Linked DNA regions of Homo sapiens. The gene in region 3 interacts genetically with the main gene of each other region. Each region holds a gene or a part of one and is shown on either strand. Other genes may lie near its edges.

Evidence for each region.
Region 1: changes in ETAA1 (region 3) and VEZF1 are lethal when combined (synthetic lethality), as found in Homo sapiens cells (one large-scale study listed by BioGRID).
Region 2: changes in ETAA1 (region 3) and PTPRF are lethal when combined (synthetic lethality), as found in Homo sapiens cells (one large-scale study listed by BioGRID).
Region 4: changes in ETAA1 (region 3) and FAM3B are lethal when combined (synthetic lethality), as found in Homo sapiens cells (one large-scale study listed by BioGRID).

Annotation. Positions count from the first base shown.
Region 1 is NC_000017.11:57,978,255-57,981,754, forward strand, and holds part of VEZF1 (vascular endothelial zinc finger 1), read right to left. Parts: intron 2,551-3,500; coding exon of another isoform or gene 2,533-2,550; coding exon 2,349-2,532; intron 1,060-2,348; coding exon 898-1,059; intron 1-897. UniProt on the Homo sapiens protein: Possible transcription factor. Specifically binds to the CT/GC-rich region of the interleukin-3 promoter and mediates tax transactivation of IL-3.
Region 2 is NC_000001.11:43,596,883-43,600,382, reverse strand, and holds part of PTPRF (receptor-type tyrosine-protein phosphatase F isoform 1 precursor), read right to left. Parts: intron 2,636-3,500; coding exon 2,330-2,635; intron 1,664-2,329; coding exon 1,470-1,663; intron 1-1,469. UniProt on the Homo sapiens protein: Possible cell adhesion receptor. It possesses an intrinsic protein tyrosine phosphatase activity (PTPase) and dephosphorylates EPHA2 regulating its activity.
Region 3 is NC_000002.12:67,409,961-67,412,589, reverse strand, and holds the end of ETAA1 (ewing's tumor-associated antigen 1), read right to left. Parts: coding exon 2,552-2,629; 3' UTR 501-2,551; downstream 1-500. UniProt on the Homo sapiens protein: Replication stress response protein that accumulates at DNA damage sites and promotes replication fork progression and integrity.
Region 4 is NC_000021.9:41,344,301-41,347,800, reverse strand, and holds part of FAM3B (protein FAM3B isoform a precursor), read right to left. Parts: intron 3,326-3,500; coding exon 3,267-3,325; intron 2,116-3,266; coding exon 2,065-2,115; intron 1,593-2,064; exon of another isoform or gene 1,394-1,592; intron 789-1,393; coding exon 701-788; intron 1-700. UniProt on the Homo sapiens protein: Induces apoptosis of alpha and beta cells in a dose- and time-dependent manner.

The DNA.
Region 1 (3,500 bases), on a different chromosome or scaffold from region 3:
ACACTACATGAAAGCAAAAGATGGAAGAAACTACACAGAAAAGGAATTACATACAGAGGAGCCCACAGATAGAGGATTCCTTAACATTTAACATAGTAAGACATTGTAGAGGTGGAGGAGGAAGAAGGAATTTACAAATCTGTCCTTTGGCTCATGATACATTGACAAAATGATTCATTTGAAATGGCTGCACAATAGTCCAGAAGCCAAAGCTGTACTAGTAAGTTGAAAAGTACGTTGAAAACTGATACTCCAACTGATTCGTTAGAAAATATACACGAGAGAAAAGCAAACCATTTAAAATTTTTTAAACAATTACAGTAAAGTCCTCAGCAGCAGAAGACTAGATATGTTAAGGCCAGCCAGTGATAGACTGAAGGAGATTAAGGGTGTGACCAAGAGAAAAGACATCAACACTACAGAATCTGAAACATGTAATAAATAATACAATGAAAAAGAACACTACAGAGCAAAAATAGCACAGTTGTAAGAAAATGAACTTATGTACACACAAGGATATCCACCTCTAAAAGTGGGAATATTTTAGAAAGGAAAAAAAAAGCCCATAATGCATGGAGGTTGACATCAAATTGAATATAAAAATGCAACTCTGAGCATAGCAAAGGACCAAATTTGGATCCAGGTTTGTAGCAAAAAGTACATCAAAAGAAAGAACATGATAGGAAGTACTGAGAACTTTTAATTCCTAGTAATAACTTATCTGGACACTTTATTGCCAATAACTATACTTTACCAGATATTTCCCAGCATGCACTATTTCCATGTTTCCATTAAGCTAGATTTCCTAAAACTGTGGCTTCTCTACTTTGATCACTTGGCATACTAAATGAAAACACTTCTCTAGCCATATTTTCAACACTGGAAGCTGTGCCTTACCTTTCTTCCTTGCTTTAACAGCTTCTTCCCACAGTCTCAGTGTTTCTACTTGCTTCCCTGGCCAGCTTGTCACATGTTGTTGTTGTTGTTGTTGCTGCTGCTGCTGCTGCTGCTGCTGCTGCTGCTGCTGCTTTTGGTTACTGGTCTCTTCACTCATGCATGCTATTACAAAGACAAACCAAAAACACTGTATCTACCTGTAAAACTGTTGCCGTTTTTTTTCAAAATTGACTTCTCATGCTTCTGTGATCTTAACCATTTAACCTGATAGCTCTTAGTAAGTGCATCTTTTTTGCTGCTGTGTCTATATTGGTCAAAATAAACAAGCACTAAAAAGTCTAGAGAACTAGCAAAAATCAATATAAAAGAGAAAAGGACTCTTTGCTATAAAAAAAAAACCATCAAAAAAAAAAAAAGCAAGTGTCTTTAAAAATGGAAGTTTGATATTATTAATATAGGACTAATCAACATTCAACAAAATTTTTTATTTGATCACAATAATGTACACTAAAAGTGAATGTTTATAGGCCGGGTGCAGTGGCTCATGCCTGTAATCCTAGCACTTTGGGAGGCCGAGGCAGGTGGACTGTCTGGGCTCAGGAGTTCGAGACCAGCCTGGGCAACACGGTGAAACGCCGTCTCTATGAAAATACAAAAAAAGTAGCAAAGGTAATCGGGCATGGCAGTGTGCACCTGTAATCCCAGTTACTTGGGAGGCTGAGGCAGGAGAATCGCTTGAACCCAGGAGGCGGAGGTTGCAGTGAGCCGAGATCGTGCCATTGCACTTCAGCCTGGGCAACAGTGTGAAGACTCCGTCTCAAAAAAAAAAAAAAAAAAAAACAAAAAAAACAGAAGTGAATGCTTATAAAGTACAACATACCAGTGTACTTACAAAGAAGTGTACTTACAAACCCAGTGTACTTACAAAGAAGTAAAAATGGATAGATTAACACACATTAAGCTTTCTTCCCCATTCTCTTGTGGCCACCTATTTTTTTGAGAATTTGATGTTTCTACTGCATAAAGTACATATATAATAGAATAAAGGATTAGGAAAATGCCTTCTTCTAGTGGTTAGGGCAATCTTAAAAGAAAAAGCCTGGGTAAATGCAAGTATTCTATCTTCAACTCTGAATTTAAGGCAAGCAAAGCATTTAAACCTTCAAGTGGATATGATATCTCATTTCTCTACAGATTTGGGTTTGAAAAGCAAGCTTATTAATACTGCTTTCACCTTAAAGGTTATTATTAGCTTATCAATGCTGTTTGCATACATGAAAGTAAAGCATAGTTCTGACATTAATATACTCTGTCCATTGTTGCCTGTTTGCACATGTTGGCAATAGGAGGAAACACGTAAGGTGAATATTAATACCTTTGATACAATATGAAAACATGCATATTTCACCCATCTGAAATATAAAAGAAAGAAAATCTGAAGCACCACCTACTTTTACTGATGCCTTGTTTACATGTATTACAGTTGATACTTTGGCTCTGCCCATGAGTCTTTAAGTGGCTGGTGATGTATGCTGCACTCAGGAGCTTCCCACAGATGTTACATGATACCTTGCCTTCATGGCGCACCATGTGTGTCCGCAGTCTGTCTTTGGTGGCAAAGGCAGCAGTGCACGTCTGCATGAGGGAGGAAAACTTTTTTTAAATATAGACTATCCTGTTCTACTCATTTTGAAGTACGTTATATTCTGTGCATTACCCTATCCACATCAGCAAGCTGACAACTAGTTGAATTTTAATTGCATATGTTACCTAGAATCATAATCATAATAAAACTCTTGATAAATTTTAGACTCTTCCATTTTGAAGGAAGAAAATACATCAACACAGAGTAGCACAAAAAATGTAAGCTTTAGGGTAAGTTAAACCTGGGTTTAAGTTGAGCTCCACAATTTACTAAATGGTGTAATGTTGAACAAGTTGGTTAACCTATCTGAAAGCTTCTTCATCTGTAAAATGGGGATAACATCTCTCACAAAATTACTGGTGGATTAAGAAAAGCCTGGTATACACAGCAGGCACTCACTCAATGACACTAGCTTCCTTCCTCCAATTAGATCTTTCTTAGCATTCAAATCATTTACTTAATAAAATCAGTCATTAACAAACTTAACTGAAAGGTGTACTAAAAGACTTCCAGCAACAAACTAAAATTACCAATGCCTAAAACAGTCATTTGATTTAGCAAAATTCTTAATGTTTTCGTTATTATAATTGATGTCAAATAAAATCATTAACTGGAATAGATTTTTAAACAACTAGAAAGTGTTCCAATTTGGTAATAACAAACAAAAATCTAGTAAGTGGTAACATTTGGGAGAAAAATTCATTATTTTCTCCTATTACAGTTAAAACAACTTCAATAATCAACCCAGAAATTAAAGCCCTTTATTCTTTTATTCATTTCAAATACACAACCACCTTTGCAAGACTGTAACTTTTTTTTCCTAACAAAAAATACTATTGCCCAAAGAAAGGGAAATATAGCTTAAAAAAAACAACACGCTTAAATTTTTAAATGATCTTGCTTTACAGAAACAGAAGCTGTCAGTTATATTTTATAAAACTAGAAGTCAAATGGGCCA
Region 2 (3,500 bases), on a different chromosome or scaffold from region 3:
AAATGGGCAGCGTCCCTGAGCCTCTGGCCCAGCTCCCTTCCGAACCTCTTGGGACCAGAAGGGGGCACTTGAAGTGGCTTCTCTGGAACCCCACTGGCCACAGCTGTGGCCACTGGCCCCCTCAGAGAGGAGGGGCTAGGGGAACCCATTCCTGGGATGTTTCTGGGTAGGTGTGTTCACTGAGGCTCCACAAGGAGCCCTCAACCTGCCCCAGGAATGCAGGTGGGTGCACATGCCTGCCTCCTCCACCCCGGATGCCTTAGCACTGGGCAGGCTGAGAGGGGGAAGAGAGCACCCTCTGGGCAGAAAGAATTTTGCTTCAGATGGCTGAGCCCAGCTGGAGGAATAAGGCTCCTGTCTGTGTGGGTGACCCCACCCCTCTGCACAGTGTGTACAGCATTGAGTGGTACACGCACCCCTGCTCTCCACCCAGGCAGAGGTGAGAGGCTCAATGGGGAGGCCCTGCTCCTGGATAGGGAGACCTTGAGAGCACCACACCAGGTGTTGTGACTCTCCAGCAGGGTCTTTTGGGAGGGGGCTCATGACAGCAACTGTGGCCCTTTCCTAGGGGTCCACAGACATGGCTTCTCATCCAAGCGCAGCAGCCACCTACTTGCTGAATAATTCCATACCACTCTCATAACCCCCCAGCATTCCAAGTTCTTCATCTGAATAGCAACCAGTGTTCAGAATACCCCAGGGACCTCACCCCAAGCTCAAGGGCAGGACCATCCTCCCAGGAAGACAGATGTGCACAGAGGGAGGTGTGAGGCTGGCCAGCAGGCCTAGCTCTTGAGGGTGAACATCAGGGGCTGAATCGTTCCCTGCAGGGCCAGGAGCAGGGCAACACTCTACTTGGCTACTCACAGAGCTTTGCAGCAACCACGGACCCATGGCCGCCAGTGGGGTAAGACAGCCCTGGAGCACTCTCTCTACCCTTTCTGTGGGAAGAGTGGATGCCAGCCCAGCACTGTCTAGGGGAAAGGCACATCTCAAAACCCCGACCTGGTGGGGCACAGTGGCTAACACCTGTATTCTCAGCACTCTGGGAGACTGAGGCAGGCGGATCACCTGAGGTCAGGAGTTCGAGACCAGCCTGGCCAATATGGTGAAACCCTGTCTCTACTAAAAATACGAAAATTGGCTAGGCGCAGTGGCAGACGCCTGTAATCCCAGCTACTCGGGAGGCTGAGGAAGGAGAATTGCTTGAACCCAGGAGGCACTCCAGCCTAGGCGACAAGAGTGAAGCTCTATCTCAAAACAAACAAACAAACAAAAAACCCACACCCAAAAAACCCCAGCCTAACCCCTGATGCTGCAAAGCATCTCGGGTCTCACAACCAAGGAAAGGCAGTCACAGCACTGCTGAGGGCAGGCAGGGGAAGAGGGACATATCTGGGCCCCAAAAGGGAGCTTGTGCATGCTGGTCTGTGCTCACCCTGCCACCCCACCACCACCCAATGCTGCACCTGGGCCTCGGCTAGCATGACGTCTTGGATGATGGGGAGTCCACGGGGCTCGCCATTCTCCAGCCGCACGTAGGTGACCTGGTAGCCGCGGATCTGGCCATGCTGCTTGCTGGGGACAGGCAGCTTCCAGTAGACATGCACAGCAGTGGAGTTCAGTGGCTCCACCTCCACCTTCCGCGGAGGCCCGCTGGGCACTGGGGGGTCAGGTAGAGAAGGAAGTCAGGCCTGGAGGTATCAACCCTAGCTCAGGTGGGCACAGCAAACTTGAGGGTCCTGCCTCAGCACCCCACTCCCCCAGGAAAGGCCCTGATACAGTTTCCTTAGATCATCTGTCCCTGGTGAGGCACACGGAAGGCTCCCTCTGCCCGCCACGGGTAAGAGCCCAGGACTGGCCCTGCCCACCCCTCTGGCCCAGGCCTCTCACTTGGTGGGGAGGGTCGACATGGGGGAACAGGTGGAGGTGGGGCACCAGGTCTTTGACCACCCCTAGTCAGCACAACCTGTCCTGACTCCTCCTAGGCCCCAATCATGCCAATGTCCAGCCAACGTGGAGTCTTGCTGATTCTACTTTGAGTATCTTTTACACCAATCTGCCCAATCTTGACCTTTCAAATCTTAGACAGGGCTGCTTCTCCCATCTTAGCCTGTGAAGGTTTCAGCTGCTTTGGAGACAGCCCCAAAGGCTGGGATTTGGGCCTCAGTTATCCCGTAAGTGACATCCCCCCACTTTAGGCCATTACACCTGAACCAGAAAGATGAGTTGACCTGGGCCTGTGTTCAGGAAAGGAAGGCCCTGGGGAGCTTGGTGGGTGGTGTCTGAGGCAGAACGCCTCCCCTCCCGCCCCGGTGGCACTGCCTACCGTCCTCATCGGTGCGCACCAGCACCGGGCTGCTCTCGGGGCCGGGGCCCACGTCTGTGTGTGCCCGCACCCACACCCGGTACTCCGTCCACTTCTCCAGGCCCACCAGGTCCCAGCTGGAGTGCTCACGGCTGATGCCATCCACCACATGCCGCCCGCGGTCCTCGCCGTCCACCGCCTCGTAGGCCACGGAGTACTGGGTGATAACGCCGTTGCGGCTGTCGGCAGGCGGCGGGACCCAACTTACCCGGACCGTGGTGGAGCCCATGCTCACACACATCACCTTCTGGGGAGGGGCGGAGGGGGCTGGGGAAGACAAATGGGGGGGAAGCAAGCAGATGGAGGGTGGGGATCACAGGCACAATGACTGAGTCACAGTGGACTGGAGACTCACCCGGGCAGGCTACCCCTTAGGTGCTGAAATGGCCATCCCAGGGTCCCTCCAGGCAGGCTGCTGCCACTCTCGCCAAGGACACCTGACTCCCTCTGACCTGCCTCCCTCTCTCTCCTTCCCTCTCTCACACACACACACGGTGATACACACACAGTTATCACACACACTGACTCTCACACAGCCTCACACACAGTGTCAGTCTCAGTGCCTCACACACGTCTCACACAGTCACACGCTGTGTCACACACACAGGGTGTCTCATACATATACTGTCTTGGTGTCTCACAGTGTCTCTCACAGTGTCACACACATACATAGTGTCACATATACATAGTGTCTCACACATAGTCTCCACATATAGTGTCATATACAGTGTCACACATATACAGTGTCATATAGTGTTTCACACACACAGTCTCACACATATACAGTGTCATATACACTGTCTCATACGGTCTCACACATATACAGTGTCACATACACATAGTGTCTCACAGTCTCACGTATACATAGTGTCATATACACAGTGTCTCACACGTGTCTCTCACACAGTCTCTCACAGTAAATACACAGTCTCTCATGGTGTCTCACACACACACTGTCACATACATAGGCTGTCTCGCACATATACTGTCTTGGTGTCTCACAGTGTCACACACACACAATGTCTTGGAGTATCAGTGTCTCTCACACAGACTCACATATACACAGAGTATCACATACCCGTGTCTTGGTGTCTCACACATGGCATCTGACACACACTCTCACACACAATGT
Region 3 (2,629 bases):
TGAGAGATAAGCTCCGCTTTCAACAGGCTCTTTTTGGAAATAATGGCATTATTAGCATCAGTCTGAGATGCAGAAACAGCAGCGGAACTTTAGGGGGAAATTGCCAGGCTACCAGTTGTCCCTTCCCCAGATTCCCTATAGACTAGGAAAGAGAAAAGCCAGGCAAACTATATAGTCAGCCCTCTGCATGCTCATTTATGGGCCATTCACCCCCTAATGTTTCCAACAAGGGCTAAAGGAAGAGTCAGGATAGGAAAGGAGAGTGGTATGAACAGGAGCAGTGACCCTAAAAACCAGTCATGTGAGGTTCAGATGTACAGGGCCATTACACCTGCCACCACCCAGAAGTGCTATAAAAGTTTTTTTTTTTTTTTTTTTTTTAAAAAAAGGGAGTCACTTAGAGAAAACTATTACGTAAATAATACTATGAGCTGTATAAGAATTTGGCAGAATTACCAGAGACACAAAATGACAAATTATAAAATAAGATTTATACAACTAAACAACACATAAAGGCATTATAGTATTGCTCAATGAAAGACACAATAATTAGTACCATTATGATCAGAGAGAAGCAATCAATTCCAGTGAAGATGGTTAGGTACGAGGTTCAAACAGACTTATTAGGCTGAGTCTAAATGAATGAACAGAATAGGCTAAAAGTACTCTTAAAAAAGCAAGCAGTAAGCAGGGAGGAGCTTAAGCAAGGACAGAGATATCCAAAGCATAGTCAGAACACAGTGAAGCCACTTTTAGTAAAAGATTCTCAGCTCTTTATTTTTGTACATAGAAACTACTTGCATTTATCTAGGTTATTATATATTCCTGGAAAAATAATATAGGTTAGCTAAACTCCAGTACTCCACTGTAGATATGAAAATACCATTTTTGATGTACAGTCTCCAACTTAAAATGGTTGACTTACAATTTTTCAACTCTAACGTGATGCAAAAGTGATATGCGTCCAATAGAAACCATACTTTAAAGTTTGATTCTTTCCCAGGCTAGAGATATGTGGTACAACATTCTCACGATGCTGGGCATCAGCTCAACTGATACTCTACAGTGTGCCGTATTGCCAGATGATGTGCCCAACTCTAGGCTAATATAAGTGATTTGAGCATGTTTAAGGTAGGCTAAGCTAAGCTATGTTGTCTGGTAGATTAAGTGTAGTAAATGCATTTTTAACTTAAGGTATTTTCAACTCATGATGGGTTTATTGGGATGTAACTACACGGTAAGTTGAGGAGTATCTGTATAGCTATAGGGCAGTAACTACCATATTATCACAGCTTTGAGACACTTGATAGTGATAAATGCCACACCATGACAGGTGTTTCATATCTCTAACTTTCTCTAGATCTCCTAAAACCATTTAAGAGGAATAAAGCATCCTCCCTGCCTTACGCCCTCTAGTTGGACTTCTATTACTGGTTTAGCAAATTCCAAATAGGCAAAATGGCAAAAAAAGAAAAAAACAAAACAGTAATAGAGAAGAAAAGATGAGTCAACTAAGTAAATTAATTGAGGGGAAAATTACAGTTACAGAAAAACTGAAAAGAAAAAAGATTCTCATTTTTATATCCTGGAAAGACTAATTCTTTAAAGCAAAATAAGGAACAATGAGCATTATTATCAAACAGTCCTTATTGTGCTTTTAATTACATCTTTTGTTTTATACTAGAAAATAATACTCCCTCAAGTTATTTTATGTACTGATACTTTGAAACAAATAGTATAATTGTTTAGGTGTCCAAATAAATCATTCTAATTGTAGCACAGCATTAACTTGCCTATGACTTTGAAAACAGTATTACTTTTTCTCACCGATACAATAAGGAAGCTGGACCAGATGACATATGAAGTTTCTGCCAGTTCTAAATGTTAATGATGCCACATTACTTTTGTAGACAATCCACTACTTCTTTTCCTCTATGTTAGACTTCTAAAATCAAAGTTTTCCTAAATATGGTGGAAAGTTTCCAAAATGTGTCACATTTTAGAATTATTAAAATTCAAATCCACTTCTAAGAACTGAACATAATTTCCTTACAAATAAAAAGTCCTTTATTTCATATCAACCATGTTCCTAGAAATATGAAAGTATTAATTAAAATCTGGAAGTGTATAAAAACCTTAAGCAACAGTTAATGAAAGTAAAACTACAAAAACAGTCTCTACTAACTTAGAAAGTTGAAGTTTTTTATTAGGAAAAGACATTAGAATAGGAAATAACGTAGATTACCTCTTTTTTGATGATCCTCTGCAATAATAGCATTTAAAAATATAACTACTTTCCTCTGTATAATATCCGTACATAATTGCTAACTTTCCTGAATTTCCAAAACTTTTGTATTTAATGACTTTCAAATACATGTCCAAGGAAATGTTTCATTTACCATTGCAAACATTGATTTATTAAATAAAGTAGAAGTCCAGGCTTTATAAAAGTCAGCATTACATTTCTCACAGAGAAATCAAGAAAAAAAATTTCCTATCAATCACAGATAGTTATCAGCAGTCTTCGTGAAGTCTTCCAACTAATATTTCATTAAAGAAATGAAGTGGGAGCTGCATTTACAGATGAGGCTCGTGCTTTAGCCATTCTCCGAACCAGTGCTTCTTGTCT
Region 4 (3,500 bases), on a different chromosome or scaffold from region 3:
TGTATGTGTGTATTTCTTTATTCTTTTCCTCTTTTTTTTTTTTTTTTTTTTGAGACAGTCTCGCTCTGTCACCGGGCTGGAGTGCAGTGGTGCAATCTTGGCTCACTGCAACTTCCGCCTCCTGGGTTCAAGCGATTCTCCTGCCTCAGCCTCCTGAGTAGCTGGGACTACAGGTGCATGCCACCATGCCTGGCTAATTTTTTAATTTTTAGTAGAGACAAGGTTTCACCATGTTGGCCAGGATGGTCTCGAACCCTTGACCTCGTGATCCGCCTGCCTCGGTCTCCCAAGTGCTAGGATTACAGGTGTGAGCCACTGCGCCCAGCCTCTTTTCCTCTTTCTATAGGGAAATTATCTCAATTTCCTTTCACATTGCTGTAACTATTAATGCCACCCTGGGTTTAGGCTTTCTGTCCGGAGGTTAGTTTGTCTGTCCTAATTATGGTCAACAGTGGCTTTGTCTTGATTCCTTGAAATACTCCTTTGATTTAGGTTCTAGTACTTCTGTGGTTAGTGATTTAATTTTTTTTTAAAGAAATGCCATCTATTTTGTCATGATCTTTCATTCTTTTTCCTTAGAGAAGTACTTTGCTCCTGGACTTTCTGCTTGTCCCCAGAGGATGTCACTGAGAGACCCTGGCAGCCTCTGCCCCAGCTGGCTTCTCTTGCCCACCGCTGTGACAGACCTACACCCACTCACCTTGTGCTTCCGTCGTCATAGGTCACCATGAAGAGCAGGGATTTTGGAGCAGCACTCTGAATAAACTTTGTCATCGGTCCAGAGTTATCTATTGGGGGATGCAAGTCAGTTTTAGGGTCTTTGCTGTTCACTGAGGCTCTGCCTTGGGTGCTGGGCTTCCTCCTGCACCTGCATTCTGTGTCCATTCTGAATCCTTGGGGGTCCCAGCGCTCGCTGCTCAACCCTGCAGATGGTGTGCTAGCTCTGGACGTGTGAACATTCACTGGGGTACCATAGGGACTATCTGAGGTGAGTGGCACAGCGTAGAAGGAAAAGAACCTAACACTTGCAATAGGTGTTCAGGGCAGTAGTGAAAGGGGGTCAAGATAAGGAGCTTTTTTGACCAACAAACAAGAGAAGTGGAGCCCCTGGTAGAAAAAAAAAACCCTCCTTAGAAATGAGATCACCAAACTCTTAACAAGCAGCAGCCTGTGTGGCACAGGTGGAGTGTTCTCTGTAGTCACTGATAAAGGGCCACACCCACACCCACACCACGACCACTGAGCAGAGTGGCCTTGCAAACACACCGACGTGTGCAGGAGAGAGACTCCCACAGAACTCAAATACGAGACATGTGGACCGTGGGCAAGTCTGTGCCAAGAGACTTATCTATGCCTTATAAAATAAAGGTAAACCTCAAACCCTGTTACTCACCGCTGCGGCTCATTATTTACTGTTCTGCTTAGGTTAACTGCAGAGTACAACTGTGTCCTTCTTATTGGGTGGGTGCAGGCGTTTTCTATTCTTCGTCTTCACTATCTTTATAAAAACTTGTTTTTGAAAGTCTCATTGATATATAAAAATAAGAGGGGATAGTATATCCTGGCCAACAACTGCAGTCAAGAGTCAGTGCCTAGAAAGGAGAGACCATCGAGAAAGACTGGGCACCCGTGGGTTCCGGGAATGCTTGCCCTGAGCCCAGCAGAGCACTGTGAGTCACCAGGAGTAATCGTGACAGCTTTCAAAGGATGATGATATTTAGGGCTGGATGCTGGTGGCTTTATTTTACATATAATGTATTTGGCTTTTTTTTTTTTTTAAAAAAAAGGCTTTTTCTCTTTCTTATTATATCATGAGAGCTAAAAAGAGAAAGACTGAGGAAAACTAACAGAAGAAAAGACATTTCTAGATGATGCCTTCAAATGTTCTATGAATTCAATTAGAGTTTAAGAGGATCTACATAAGACCACTCTAGATTACTCAGGAGAGCTGCTGGCGTTTTTCTAGTAGACAAAATAAAAATGGTTGACATTTTTCTTTGTGCTTTTTAATCTTAATTTTCTGTTTAAAATTCATTTGAATTTTAACAGAAAAAATTTTCTTACCACCTTCATACATATCAAAACATCGTGTTGCTGTCACATTCCCAGTTACATCTGAAAATAAAAGAAATGGTATTTTAAAAGAAAGTTCACAGAACTAGGGCGCACTTGTGGCACCAGGGCCTGGGGAAGGAAATATTTCTTCCCTGTCTATCTCCAGCAAACACCACTGATGTAATGACCCAGCCTGCAGAGACAGGGCGGGCCCCTTGAGGAGAGTCCCCAAAACCAGGTCAAAGGAAAGTGCTGGAAGCTGTGCTAGAACTTTCTTCCAGTTTGCTTTGGGTTACACCTGATGGAACACTAATACCTCCCCCACCCAACTCATCTCACAGAAACACCAGAGACCCCTCACTCAGGCCCACCCGCCTCATCCCACAGAAACACCAGAGCCCCCTCAGCCAGGCCCACCCGCCTCATCCCACAGAAACACCAGAGCCCCCTCAGCCAGGCCCACCCGCCTCATCCCACAGAAACACCAGAGCCCCCTCAGCCAGGCCCACCCGCCTCTTCCCACAGAAACACCAGAGCCCCCTCAGCCAGGCCCACCCGCCTCATCCCACAGAAACACCAGAGCCCCCTCAGCCTGCCCACTTCCTACTTTACAGCCTCCTTCAGGGCTGTCAGATTGGGAGCATTTTATCTTCACTTCCACAGCCCTCACGTCTCGGGGCTATGCGGCCCACTCACTCACAGGGACGTTGTGGGAAACCCTTTCCTTCTCCTCTGGGCCCCTCAAAGGCAACTGTGAGAGAGCTTTATTCCAGACCTAAGAGAAAGGCCAAGTTTTGTTTCCCACGAGGTTGCAGTGGCTTTTATCACACAGAAGGATGAGATGGTCTATGGTGTCAGCCCCTGAGCAGACACTGGGACTCTGGGAGCAAATGAGAGGCTCAGTCCAGGACCACAGGCTGCACCCCCTTGGCGGCCCTTCTGGTGTTAACCCTAACTTTGGCCTATCCCTCTGTTTTTTTCTTTTTTTAAAATAAAGTCTATATTTGGTTTTCAGTTGTTTATTTGTTGTTAGAACCACAAATAATCTGTGAAGTGAGACTTGTAAAAATAATTGAGTATATAATCTTAAAATGCATTAAAATACAAACCTAGACTAAATCACGCGCAAAAGTCTCGAAAACCCAAGGTACCTTTGAAAATCTGACCAGAGAGCTTTTAGAGAAGTTTAAAGAAAATGTTTAGTAACTTACAGTTGACAATGGCAATGTTTATTCCTCTGGCAACATTTCCCAGCTGTTCTCCCATAAGTCTGAAATGGAGCTAAGCATTAGTCAAGTACCAAGAGGCGTGCGACTCTCCCCGCTCCGCGAAGTCTTCGCCTGACCAAATGTCAGTCTCATCTGCTGTCCCCCACCTTTTCCTTGAAAGTCTGCATTCGCCTTGGTGCAGCTCCCGAGACCGCCACCCCCATGTTCATCCACACA